Linked DNA regions of Homo sapiens: all the other regions are reported to be linked to region 3. The links are microRNA targets in miRTarBase. Many come from high-throughput screens and were not tested one by one. Region 3 holds a microRNA gene; each other region holds the end of a gene's coding sequence. Distances are from middle to middle.
Evidence for each region. The annotated mature microRNA hsa-miR-3130-5p reads UACCCAGUCUCCGGUGCAGCC and lies in region 3 at 2,260-2,280, opposite strand. An mRNA with a match to its seed (bases 2 to 7 or 8) in the 3' UTR can be bound and repressed. Matches are read on the target gene's strand: a 7mer-m8 pairs with bases 2 to 8, a 7mer-A1 pairs with bases 2 to 7 and ends in A, and an 8mer does both.

Region 1 (4,209 bases), not on the chromosome of region 3:
TCTTGTGTGTTTTAATCTTCTCATTAAAATTCCTCAGAGTTACTCAGAATCTCTAAAAACATTCTCCTATGACTTAGCGACATGCTGATCAGTTTTGCTCCTTTTTCATGAAGTAGGATTGTCACGAAAGAGAAAACTGCAAGGGATGTTCTGCCCAATCAGAGGAGGCTTCTTCATCCTTCAACTCCATGATGAACTCCTATATGAAGTGGCAGAAGAAGATGTTGTTCAGGTATTTTTGCAATGCTTGTGTCCATTCCATAGGAAGACAAGACACTGTATTGTCAGGCCGACAGCTTTGTTTCCTGTGCATGAGGATTTTGGAACTCTACCCTAGCCCTGGGATGGCTGTATAAATATTGAGTCCTTACAGGTAGAAAAGGAGCTAAGAGTGTTCCGTTTTGTACTAGTTCTTAATAAGTGAAGAATTGCCAATGCAAGATGTTTTTGTCTTGGAGGAATTAAACAAAAATTTGGAGTCTTTCCCTTAGGGTTTCTAAGCTCCAAGCATTCTAGCAAAAACTTTCAGAAATTCCTGCTCATCAGTGAAGAAGAGTATGAGATGTCTTTTTATTTATTCATTTATTTATTTTATTTTTTATTTTTTCTGATTTAGCATTTTAAGCACCATTGGGTGAAGAGCTCCAGTCTGGTTTATAACTTTCTCAGGGGATGGTTTGGGAAACATTCTTTGACTGGGCAGTTTGTTAACTACATTTTTTTTTTCCTTAGGTAGCTCAGATTGTCAAGAATGAAATGGAAAGTGCTGTAAAACTGTCTGTGAAATTGAAAGTGAAAGTGAAAATAGGCGCCAGCTGGGGAGAGCTAAAGGACTTTGATGTGTAACTGTGCTGTTGATGAAGTCCTCCCAGGGAAGCCTGTGCAGATGCAGTCACCTGGAAAGAACAGAGATTACCCTTTCACCTACCTCAGCAAAACAAACTTTCAAGTCTTGATAGACTTAGCCTAGTAATTTTATAGTGAGAGTTTCAAACTATATATCAGTGTCTATAGCATCAAAAACTTCTGGGGGCGTGGGGGAAGTAGAATACCAAGTATAATAGTTACATTCACTTTCAAAGAGCATCTATGAATTTGCCTTTTGTAACTTACTGTGGCTTTAAACATATTCAGAACAGATGCTTGAAATATGCACTTAGCACTTTGGTTCCACATCTGTCTGGGTAAACCATGAAGAAAATGAAGCTGCTGCCTCAATCGACCCAGACAGCAGCCATAGGCAGATAAAGATTTGGTTTCACCCTGGTGGTGGTAGGCATCGTGTGTGACTTTTTTTCCTCTAATATCAATTTTACAGTACGGAAATAGTATTTTAAAATAGTATTGGCTAATAAATTATGAATTCTATAAAGTAGTAAGACTTGGTATGGTTGGAGTGTAGGAATGAATATTCATGAAATGTTTCTTATTGCTTTTCCTTCCCTAATTCATACAATGAATGTATTTGGAATACTTACATATTATAAAATAAACTATACCTCTTCAAGAGGTATCCTGTTCTGTAAGATCAGATGTTTTTATTGCAGGTCAATATAATACTGCCAGAGACAGAAAATACCCCCTTATCAGTCCCTTAGTGCCTCTTTCTGTTTGTGGCATGGTGAGAAAACCCATGCTGAAAAGATTGTACTTTGTGATCCCAATCAGAGGGATGGAGCTAATCTTTTTGCTGTTGAAATAAAATGAATTTATGAGAAACTTTATATCAACAATTGTTTTGTTAAAAATTATAGTTGGTCTAAGAGTGTCCCTTATTTAGTTACTCCATAGCTTGTTCATAGGAAACACTGATTATATTCTTAATCAGTTACCAGAAGAGCTCTTTTATGTTTATTAATCAGAATAATGAAAAAAGATAGTTGCTTTATAAAATGTAATGCATTATCAGTAGTTGGGTATTAATGCATAAGAGACTTAGACATAGTTTTTTTGGGGTGGCAGGGTGAGAAAGGCAGAGATGGCAGCAGTAAGAGGGAAGAATATCATTATTTCTTTTTCCATATTTACCTGTACTATGTTTCTCAGAAGCTGAAGTGCTGTCAGTATTCTGGTAGGCTTGAAAGATCTGGCACAAGAGAAAGCTCAATCTGTTTACCTGTGAGTGTTCTTCAAACATGAGGGCAAGCAAAAGTCCCTTCTGCCTCATTCTCTGCAGCCATGGCCCAGCATGTGTAGTCACATGCATTTTCTCATTCTGTTTGACCTGTCAGCTGGACCTGAAACAGGCCATCCCCATTTTGCATGATTCAGATGTGCACAAATCCCAGTTACTATGGTTTACTTAATAACATGAGTCTCCCCTGCAACACAATTCAAATTTCAGTTACCAGTGGATATTAACTGTGAGTAACTGCATGAAATTCAAACTTCACTGATAGTTCTTCAAACCACAACCACTGTGTAAATAAGAAATGCACATTGTGTTATGCAGAATAATGCCCCCCACCCCAAAGTTCACATCCTAATTCCTAAAATCTGTGAACTATTATATTACATGGCAAAAGGGACCTTGTTGATGTGATTAAGTTAGAGATCTTGAGGTGGGGGATTATCCTGGATTATCTGAATGGTTCCATTGTAATCACCAGGGTCTTTATAAGAGGGAAGCAGATGGTCAGAGTCAGGGAAGATGTGACAACAGAAACAGAGAAAGATTTGAAGATGCTACACTGCTGGCTTTAAAGTTGGAAGAAGGGGCCATGAGCCAAGGAATGCAGGAACCCTCAAAAAATTGGAAAAGGTAAGGAAATGGATTCTCTCCTAGAACCTTTTGAAGGGATGTAGCCCCGCCAACACCTTGACTCTAGCCCAGTTAAGACCATTTTGGACCTCTGTCCTTTAGAACTGCAAGACAATTATTTGAATTGTTTTGAGCTAGTAAGTTTGTGGAATTGGTAGCAGTAACAGGATATTCATACATGCATCATGATGAGGACCAGTTACATCACTTCTTCCAAAGGCTGTCTGTGATTGGCTACTTCACATCTGTTATTCACTTTACTTGCAGATGGCAAAATGTAGTTGTGTTGATTGCTTGTCTCCCAGTGGTAAATCCACATTATACAAAAATGGATAATCAAAAGTAGAAGTTGGCTAATAAAGATCAAAGTGTACCAGAGAAGTAAAAAATAACACTGGAAGTGAAATTCAAATTGAACATAAATGGAATTACAGAAGAACTACCTGCCTGGGAATGCTGACACTACTGCTGTTTGAGATACAGTAGATAGGCAACCTGAGAAACAGTAAAGGCACAATTTACATAAATGAGGAAAATGGTTGTGACAAAAGGATAAAGATGTCCCAGAGGAAGCGATGCCAACAAAAAACTTCATTAATTTTTAATCTATAACTTTAATTCCATCAAAGTCTCATCAGGATTTTATATTTTTTAGATAGATAGTATCTTAAAACTCACCTGAAGAAAAACCAGTACCTGGCCGGGCGTGGTGGCTCACGCCTGTAATCCCAGCACGTTGGGAGGCCGAGGCAGGTGCATCACGAGGTCAAGAGATCGAGACTATCCTGGCCAACATGGCAAAACCCCCTCTCTACTAAAAATACAAAAAATTAGCCGGGTGTGGTGGCGGGTGCCTGTAATCTCAGCTACTTGGGAGGCTGAGGCAGGAGAATCACTTGAAACCAGGAGGTGGAGGTTGAAGTGAGCCGAGATTGCGCCATTGCACTCCAGCCTGGACAAAAAGAGCAAAACTCTGTCTCTCACACACACACACACACACACACAAAATACCAGTACCTATCAAACTTGAGAAATAACAAAGATTTGTATCAGATATTAGGATGTATTACAAAGACATAATAGTTTCAAATTATATATAGGGGATAGAAATAGGTAAGAGTATTAAAACAGACTAAAGAATTTAAGAAACAGACTTATATGAGAAATGATTAAAATGTCATTTCAAATTAGTGGTGAAAGATGGGCTGTTCATAAACGCGATGTAGTGATAAGAGTATCCATTGGTAAAAATATCAAGTTGGATCTCTATCTCAAATGCTCACAAAATACTCCAGATGGATTAAAAGCCTAAATATTTAAAAGAAGACTATGAAAGTAAATTAAAAAAATATGAGAATGTTTATGACTTTATAGAAATAAAAGCCTGCTTTAAAACAAAGTTCTAAAATCATAAAGGTAAAAGATAAAACTTGACTACATTATAAAGA
Region 2 (4,209 bases), 8.1 Mb from region 3:
GGCTCCTACCTGTAACCCTAGCACTTTGGGAGACCATGGATGGAGGATTGCTTGAACTCAGGAGTTCAAGACCAGCCTGGGCAACATAGCGAGACCTCATCTCTACTAAAAATAAAAAATAATTAGCCAGCCTTGGAGGTGCACACCTGTAGTCCCAGCTACTCAGGGGGATGAGGTGGGAGGATCACTCGAGCCTGGGAGATCGAGGCTGCAGTGAGCTGTGATCTCTCCACTGCACTCCAGCCTGGGTAACAGAGCAAGACCTTGTCTAAAAAAAAAAAAAAAGAACAACAACAACAAGAACAACAAAACAAAAACAAAAAAGCAAGCACATTCTGTAGGTATTATCCAGAGTGGAAGTTCTGGGAACTGGGAATTCTCTAAACATTTCCTCTACTGCAGAGAAACCCAAAGGGATATGGGTTCAAATATTTGTTCATAGATGTTCCTTAATTACATATAAAAATGTGCCATGATACTCTTAAATAGTACATACTAACAGAAAAAAAGAGGAAGAAAAATAAATGTCCAAAAATGTGCAAAAACAAAACATAGCATTCTCATTCTAAAGAAGATACCCAAATCCTTCCATCGCAGTAGATTCATTGTAATATCTGTAATATGGGACTATGTATCATCTTTCTCTTTTCTTCCCTCAGAATAAACTACCTCATGGGAAACCTCACTGTATTTCAGAAATTTAAACAAAATCAGGTTGCTTGGTTTTCATATCAACCATGCCAGCCTCTCTTGTTTCTCCTTCATTTATTTACTCATTTAACCAACAAATACTTACTTATTGAGTGCCACGAATATTTATTGTGTATATAGGTACCAGTTGGAGAGCCAGGAAGATCAAAATAGATCTCTGTCCTCATGGAGTTTCAAGCCTAGTGAGACAGAGAAATACTAATCACTCAAATAATGGTGCTACTATCACGGTCCAGAGCCCAGCTGGGGCTTCCCTGCCCATTGAGAGGTAGATGAGATTGGCTGGAGTCCCTGATCCATGTCCTATGGTCAGAAGCTCTGCTCCACACATGTCCTGGCATCTCCCTGTCTCATGGTCTGACAGCTTCTGGGATGAAGCTGTCACTGTACTGCACCTCTTTCAAAAAAGGAATTAACATATCTTCATTCCAGTCTCCACAAGACACTCAGTCACACAGAGCATTTGTAAGCGTGTCTGACTTCAACGAAGATTCAGTGGTAACAGGGACCATCCACAGCATGGCTGCACAGTGAGTGAATATGCAAAAAGTATTTGAATACTCATAGTTTTAAACGTCCATTCAACCACTTCTCTTTCTCACTGGGCTTCCGTCTGTTTCAGTACTTAGCCTTCTGCCATCTCACTGGTTCCACCTTTCTCCATGTCCCTTGTGTCCTTTTCTTTTGCTTCCTTTCCTACCATTGCTCAGAAACAAGCAGACAACCAGCCAACCACAACAAAGACAATGAACAGCAAACAAATTCCTTTTATTCTTTCATGGAGCTCGGCTATCTATTTTGTCACTTGGGACCCTAGAGACACCCACGCTCTCAGAGTTATACCTTCTATCTACTCCAAAAGGCGTGTCTACATATTATATTCAGCAAAGACATTTTCCATCCTGAAAGAAATTGTGTTACCATCTGTTAAGGTACATATATATATATATATTTGTAGTTAAGTCAGTCAGTCTGGATATATTACAAATGATGATGCATGCTCTGACAGAAAAGTAGGAGGTTGGGAGGAACAACAAAGCATATAGTATTAGAACAGCAGACCAGATTTAAAATGAGAAAGCCGGGCAGTCTGGGTTCTCTAAGAAAGTATGACATTTCTGGAGCCTGTTAGCCAGGTAAAAAGTGTGGGGTGAAGAGCATTCCCAGCAGGAGAACAGCATGTGCAAAGGTTTGGAGATGGGGAAGACTGTGGAGCACTGGAAAAAGTGGGAAGGGGCCAGCATGGCTAGATCCCAAAGGGCCAAAGAGAGAGAAAGATGGGGATGAGGGTGGAGAGGCCAACAGGGGCCAGATCAAGTGAAACTTTGCAGGCCACATGACTCCCATTTTTAGGTTCCTGTCTCTTCCCTAACAAATGAAATGACAGCATGAATGAGTTTTTCTAAACTTTGAGTTTATTGGTTTTCGAGACAAACAGTCATGCCAAAGCTGACAAACTTGTATAGATACACACACATACACGCACACACGGTACATAAAGCACCTTTCCCCAGGGCCACGTCACTTGCCATTATTAAGAAGTCTATCCTATAGCCATATACACGATTCTGGGTCACCCAGATAATTAGCTGAAAATTATCTTCATATTCGTTTTCCCTCCACAGGAATGTTTCCTGAAAAGAAACCCCAAATATGAGGGTTTCTGAAAGAGCTTTAAAAAATGTTGCCTGCCAGTAGCACATGGATTCTCTTTTCAGGGTTTGTATCTACCCAGCTGACACACCCATTCCCCCCTCCCTTCCCCCCAGAGCAAGTGATTTCTTGTTCCACCCTGCAGCTTACTATTGGCAAGGCATGGCAGGAGTGAATCTAGGTTCCGTGTACCACCAGGGTAAATTGCCCTCTCTATTGCAGTCCTTATGGAAAGGCACTTTTTTTCGGGTTCAGCACGTCCCCATGCATTCACAGGTACCGAAAGTGACATACACATACATTGTAAACATTGTGCCCACTGCTCTGCAAACGTTCATTTGGCCCTTAGCAGTTCACACATCACAGCCGATTCATGTATTCATGATGATGTTCATTCTGTTGTTTTCTGGAAATAAATTATGTTGTCTGCTTGCCCGGTGGCACCTGCCACAAACCATCTGACTTTTCTTCTCCACTCTTATATTTCAACTACCAAAATCCATGCCTTTTAAACTGTCTTTTTATTGAAAGTAATAAATTAAGATATTCATCTTGAGGTGGCTTCACCTTTGCATAAGAATCACCAGCATATACATTAGCATGCTCACAGTGTTGAGTATACAGGAATTCATTTCAGTAGCAACAACACTCACTGACCTTAGAAGGAAAAATTTCCTTTTATAATTACTTGTTAGTCTAACACAGTTGTAACTTTCCATACAGTATATTACTTTACTTTAAAATGAAGATATCTTGCGGAAGTGTATCTTCTGTGGCTTTTCTTCAAAATGAAGCCATTGGTCACACGCTGAGATTGAGTTTGCTGGAAGTGTTAAGACTCCATCTGGTCATCTTGTGAGTCAACACTTATAGTGGAACCTTGGCTGCTGGTATCAGCAGTTTCATAGGACTTCTGGTCTTTGGCAAAGTTGATGAAAACCTGATTTTTCAGGGAAAATAAAGCCATTAATGCCTGGTAAGCCAAAGGAAAAAATAAAGTTAATTCATTCTCTCTCTCTCCCCTTCCTCTCTCCTAGTGCAAGCGTGTATATATGTGTATGCAGGCCCCTATAAAATCCAAATCCTAGTTTTATACATGCTTGCACTAGGAGTCCTTTCAGAAAATCAAATTTAACTGGGGCTTGAAAACAGCACCTATATCTATGACCATATTTATGACTATGATTTTATTTATAATCATGTCAATCTTAAGCCATAGTTGACTATCTGTAGCCACATTTCTGCATTCATATGACCTACATCAATATCTCTATCAGGTATAAACAAGGAGCCCAGCCCTGTGCCCTTATTGAATGGTTGTGTAGAAATGTTGAGAGAAATTTCACTAGTTTCAAGAGTTAATGCATTAAGATAAAATTTGTATAGAAAGCCCATGTTAACACTGTGTTCAGTAAGCCAATTACTTAACAGGCAGATCTTTTCACTTTGTTTAAAGTCATTAAATCTATTAGTCATAGTTTCATCCAAAAACTATCGAGAGTCTGTATTTTGCCATGGTGCTGGTAGTTGGTCATAAGTCGAAGACTAAGTCTTCATTTTCAGGAAAGTCATGATTGTCTAAAGCCCCCATTAAAATGCCTAAAGCCCCACAAGAAGAGTTGTACATCAAATGCAGCACCATATACTGACCCCTAAAGGCCTTACTTTCAGACCTAGTCCAATGACAGATATAATCAAACTTTCTATATGTCATGTTGGTTGAGCTGTGCAAAATTAAGACAGTACAGAAGTGATAAAGGATGACCTAATAAGTCTGTAGTTATTAAATGCAAATGTAATTAAGACAGATGATGTACGTTGAACGGAAAGGATTCTGCATTTACC
Region 3 (4,209 bases):
AATTTCATTTACTTTTCTGTGTTCTTATAAGACAATTATTTTTAGTTCTTTGTTGGGCAGTTCATAGATCTTCATCTCTTTAATGTTGATTACTGGACATTTATTTTGGTACTTTGATTGTGTTACATTTCCCTGATGCTCTTTCTTCCTTGTAGCTTTGCATTGGTGTCTGCACAATTAAAGAAACAGTCTCCTCTCCCTGTTTTTACAGACTGGCTTTGACAGGGAAAGACTCTTATTAATCAGCTTAGCCAGAGATTCTGGGGGCCTCTTAAACTTTTTCTATGATTTTTTTTTTTTTTTTTTTTTTTTTTTGAGACAGAGTTTTGATCTTTGTTGCCCAGGCTGGAGTGCAGTGGCACGATCTCGGCTTACTGCAACCTCTGCCTCCCAGGTTCAAGCGATTCTCCTGTCTCAGCCTCCCAAGTAGGTGGGATTACAGGCACCTGCCACCACGCCTGGCTAATTTTTGTAGTTTTGGTAGAGACGGGGTTTCACCATTTTGGCCAGGCTGGTCTACAACTCCTGACCTCAGGTGATCCACCCACCTTGGCCTCCCAAAGTGCTGGGATTACAGGCATGAGCCACCATGCCTGGCCTGAATGTGTTTATGGATTTCTAAGTAGAGGGATTTACTGGTTTCTTTTTTTTAATTTCTTTTTTTTTTTTTTTTTCCAGTATCAGGGAATGTCTTGCTCCCTCTGGTGTCTGACTGCTGTACTACAGTCGGGGACATAGATGCTCCTCTCCTTTCTCTCCTTCGCTGTAGAGAAGCCTTGAGTTGTGCTGTCTGCTGCAAGCCACTGACCCCTTTTTTTCCTACTTAACTGCTCCTGAGCATTCAAACTATGCTGGTTTCGTCCGCTCTCCTTGTGAGGTGAGATAGAAACCAGCTCCTTGGACAGCTCACCAAAAGGCTAGGATGTTGAAGACATGCTCCACTCCTCTCATTTCCTCCTGAGGCTGAATCCTCGGGTTGCGTACCTTCTCTCAATCTCTCAGAGCTGTGCTGAGTGCAGGAAGCTGTCCACCCCTTTTCCTTTGTTCTTAACTGCTCTCAGGCATCTGAACCCTGCTGGTTTTGTTAGTATTCCACGTGAGTTTAGACAGAAATCCAGCCCCTAGGGCAGCACAGTGAAAAGCCGGATGTTGGTTGCACACTCTACTCTCTCCCTCCAAGGGAGAAGTCCTAGGCCAAGGTGATCTCCTTGGTGCTGAGCTGTGCCGGCTTTGGGGAGGGGCTGACCTGGGTAAAATGTTCTTCTTGCCTGTTTCAGTGCAACTCTTCTTGGTTTTGTTCTTGTCTGGAGTACGACAATATCTTAATTGGTTTCTGGACTTTTCATAAAGGTATTTTTGTCTATATGTCCTTGCTAAATCAGTGTTTCTGAGAAGCTGTGAGAACTGGACCTTCTTCTAGTTCAGTTTTGACCTTAACTATTCATTTGGTCTCAAGCTACTGCTTTCTATTCTTTTCATTTTAACCACAGCCATGCATTCCTACTATTAAATACAGTAATTCCTCAAATGTGCCAGCTTCTTTCATACCTCTGCTTTCTACCCAGAACATCTTTTCTTACTCTTTGGATCAGTCAGGGTTCATTAAAAATCAGAAAAGCATATAAAATGTCATTTGTTAAAACAGTGATTAAAAGCATGGACTCTAGAGCTAGCTTGCTTAGGTTTGAGTTTCAGCATTGCCATTTGTTAGCTGCTTGACTTTTGGCAAATTACTTATCTGTGCCTCAGTTTATTCACTTATTAAAATGGAGATGAGCTATGTCTAATCTCATTGGGTTGTTATTAGAATTAAATGAGTTAATCTATGTCAAGTTCTTATGACAATGCCCAGCACATAGTAATTTTTAGATTTGAAAAAAATTAGAGTGTAGGTCACAGAGGCCTTGGGGGAACAAACTAGGGCAGTTGTGAAGGTCTCAGTGGCAAGATGCACAGGCCATCTGTTTGCCATCAAATGACTTGACTCCAGCTGCTTGCTTTCCTTTTAGTTTTCCCTCCAGATTTAGATTTCTGAAAGAGAACATCTGATTGACTGAGTTTGAGTCAAATGCCCATCCCTTAGGGGCAGTTAATCAATTAAGTGGTGTCAGGCCAACTAAAAAGCAGCTTCCCACTGTACTGTCCACTGAATGGACAGACTCAGCTCATACTGCATTTCCTGTGTCTTCCCTAATTGTCACCGTCAGAGTCCCTGTGCTTGTCATGTCTTACCCAGTCTCCGGTGCAGCCTTGACAACAGGCTGCACCGGAGACTGGGTAAGACATGACAAGTTGTGTCACATCATTTGTTGTGTCAGTAAGTCTGTCTCTGCTCCTCAGTTGGTAAGCTCTCCGGAGTCCGACCCAGCTGCCTGTTTTTCTGAACTTAGTACAGGACCTGCCAAAGAGTAGACATTTAATAAAGGTCGAAAAATATCTCCCAAATTCAATCTTCCTTTACTCCCCTGGCTTCATTTTCTTCTGAGGCTGGCTCCCATTGATGCCTTGTACTTTCTAGACAAATAATATCAAGCTAAGTGGTAATTAAAACTCCAGAAACAGCCCCAGAGGGATTAAGAGAGTAAGTACTGGGCGGGTAAGAGTTTTTCAGGTGACTCCAGGCAACCTGAGAGATAACTTGTTCCAACAAAATTGTTACATTGAAAATAGAGGGGGGATAACAAAGGTAACAAAGGCTGGGAGGACATTTAATAAAATGGCAGTAGTAGAATTAGTACAGGAGGAGAATCATGAATGTTGTCTTTTTGTCTGTCTATTCTGCTTTCATTTAACCTAGTGGTTTTCAAACAGGGATGATTTTGCCTCCCAGGGGACATTTGGCAAGGTATGGAGATGGTTTTTAGTTGCCACAACAGGAGGGAGGTCTGTGCTACTGGCCTCTAGTGGACAGAGGCCAGGGGTGCCGCTAACATCCTACTATGCAGAAGATAGCCCCTCACAATAAGGAATTATCCAGCCCCGGATGTTAGTAGTGCTGAGATTGAGAAACCCTTACCTAATTCTAAGCCTCCCACCTCAACATTTCTCCAAAGGAGAAGTAGGGGCAATATGGCAGATATAGCAAGATTAATTAGTCACCATTTCCTGAATGCCCATGAATGTACAATTGCCTGGATTTGGTATTTTGAAGGCTATAAAAAAAGAAGTTTGTATTCCCTGCTCTTCCTAGACCATTTATGAGAACAACTCTGTTGTATATCCAGAGGAAGGCAGTACATGGTAGGCACCAAGTAAGTGCTTTATGGAGGAAGGAGAAAGGAAGATGGCAACTTATCTGGAGTAGCAAAGGTTTTGGAAGCAGAATAACTCAAAGTATTTGGGAAGAGAGTTGACTAGAAGAGATGGTTAGATAGGAGAGTGGTAGGAATTCTGGCTTATTGTATACCCACATGCTATACATTAATCATTATTTCATTTATGATGGCCCATCGGGGAGAGGGTGTTAAATCCAGAGTATCTTGCTGGGCTTTGAACCCAAGGAACAAATATGTAACGTTTAAGCTCTGTTGTTTTGGTCCTTTGGTTTCTTCTCTTCTTGATCTGTATTTACCACCTTATGGATAATCCCACATTTGCATCTGTGGTCATTAGTGTGCTCCTTAACTCCAGACCTGAGTCTCTGTGGGTTGCATATGGTCACTGCACATCCCAGAAGTGTCTCAAGTTCAGTAATTCTGGAAGTCAGCTATTTTTCTTGACTCATCGTTTTCCAATGACAAGCTCGTCCTCCTGTCTTCCTCATCAAAGTTTATTTGTTCGTTTAGTCAGCATTTGCCAAGCACCTGGACACTTAGGAGAAAGATGAATAAGACAGTCCTTCTTGCCAGAGGATTCTGTGTAATGGGTAAGGTAGATATGTAAATTGGCAGTTAAATATAGCATGAAAATTCGAGTGATCTAGCATATTAGTCTGTTTTCACGCAGCTGATAAAGACATACCCGAGACTGGGCACTTTACAAAAGAAAGAGGTTTAATGGACTCACAGTTCCACATGGCTGGGGAGGCCCCACAATCATGGCAGAAGATGAAAGGCACATCTCACAGGGCAGCAGACAAGAGAGACAGCCAAGCAAAAGGGGTTTCCCCTTATAAAACTATCAGATCTCGTGAGACTTATTGACTACCACAAGAAGAGTATGGGGGAAACCACCCCCATGATTCAGCTATCTACCACTGGGTCCCTCACA

Region 1: miRTarBase lists POLQ as a target of hsa-miR-3130-5p. Seed matches in the 3' UTR shown: 7mer-A1 at 1,181-1,187.
Region 2: the mRNA of ABCA12 is a reported target of hsa-miR-3130-5p. Seed matches in the 3' UTR shown: 7mer-A1 at 2,440-2,446.

What each region holds. Positions count from the first base shown.
Region 1 is chr3:121,428,941-121,433,149 of GRCh38, reverse strand. POLQ (DNA polymerase theta) reads left to right here. Exons shown (of 30, transcript NM_199420.4): 29 at 117-232; 30 at 733-1,719. The coding sequence ends at 846. Among named protein-coding and RNA genes, the nearest start is that of POLQ, 110 kb to the left of the region's middle. RefSeq lists an enhancer at 842-891.
Region 2 is chr2:214,929,438-214,933,646 of GRCh38, forward strand. ABCA12 (ATP binding cassette subfamily A member 12) reads right to left here. Exons shown (of 53, transcript NM_173076.3): 53 at 2,105-3,304. The coding sequence ends at 3,197. All of the region lies in intron 2 of SNHG31 (small nucleolar RNA host gene 31), which reads left to right. Among named protein-coding and RNA genes, the nearest start is that of SNORA70I, 85 kb to the left of the region's middle.
Region 3 is chr2:206,781,017-206,785,225 of GRCh38, forward strand. MIR3130-1 (microRNA 3130-1) reads right to left here and starts at 2,292; the gene lies at 2,218-2,292. The region is part of intron 7 of FASTKD2 (FAST kinase domains 2); the gene reads left to right. It overlaps MIR3130-2 (microRNA 3130-2), which reads left to right and starts at 2,218; the gene lies at 2,218-2,292.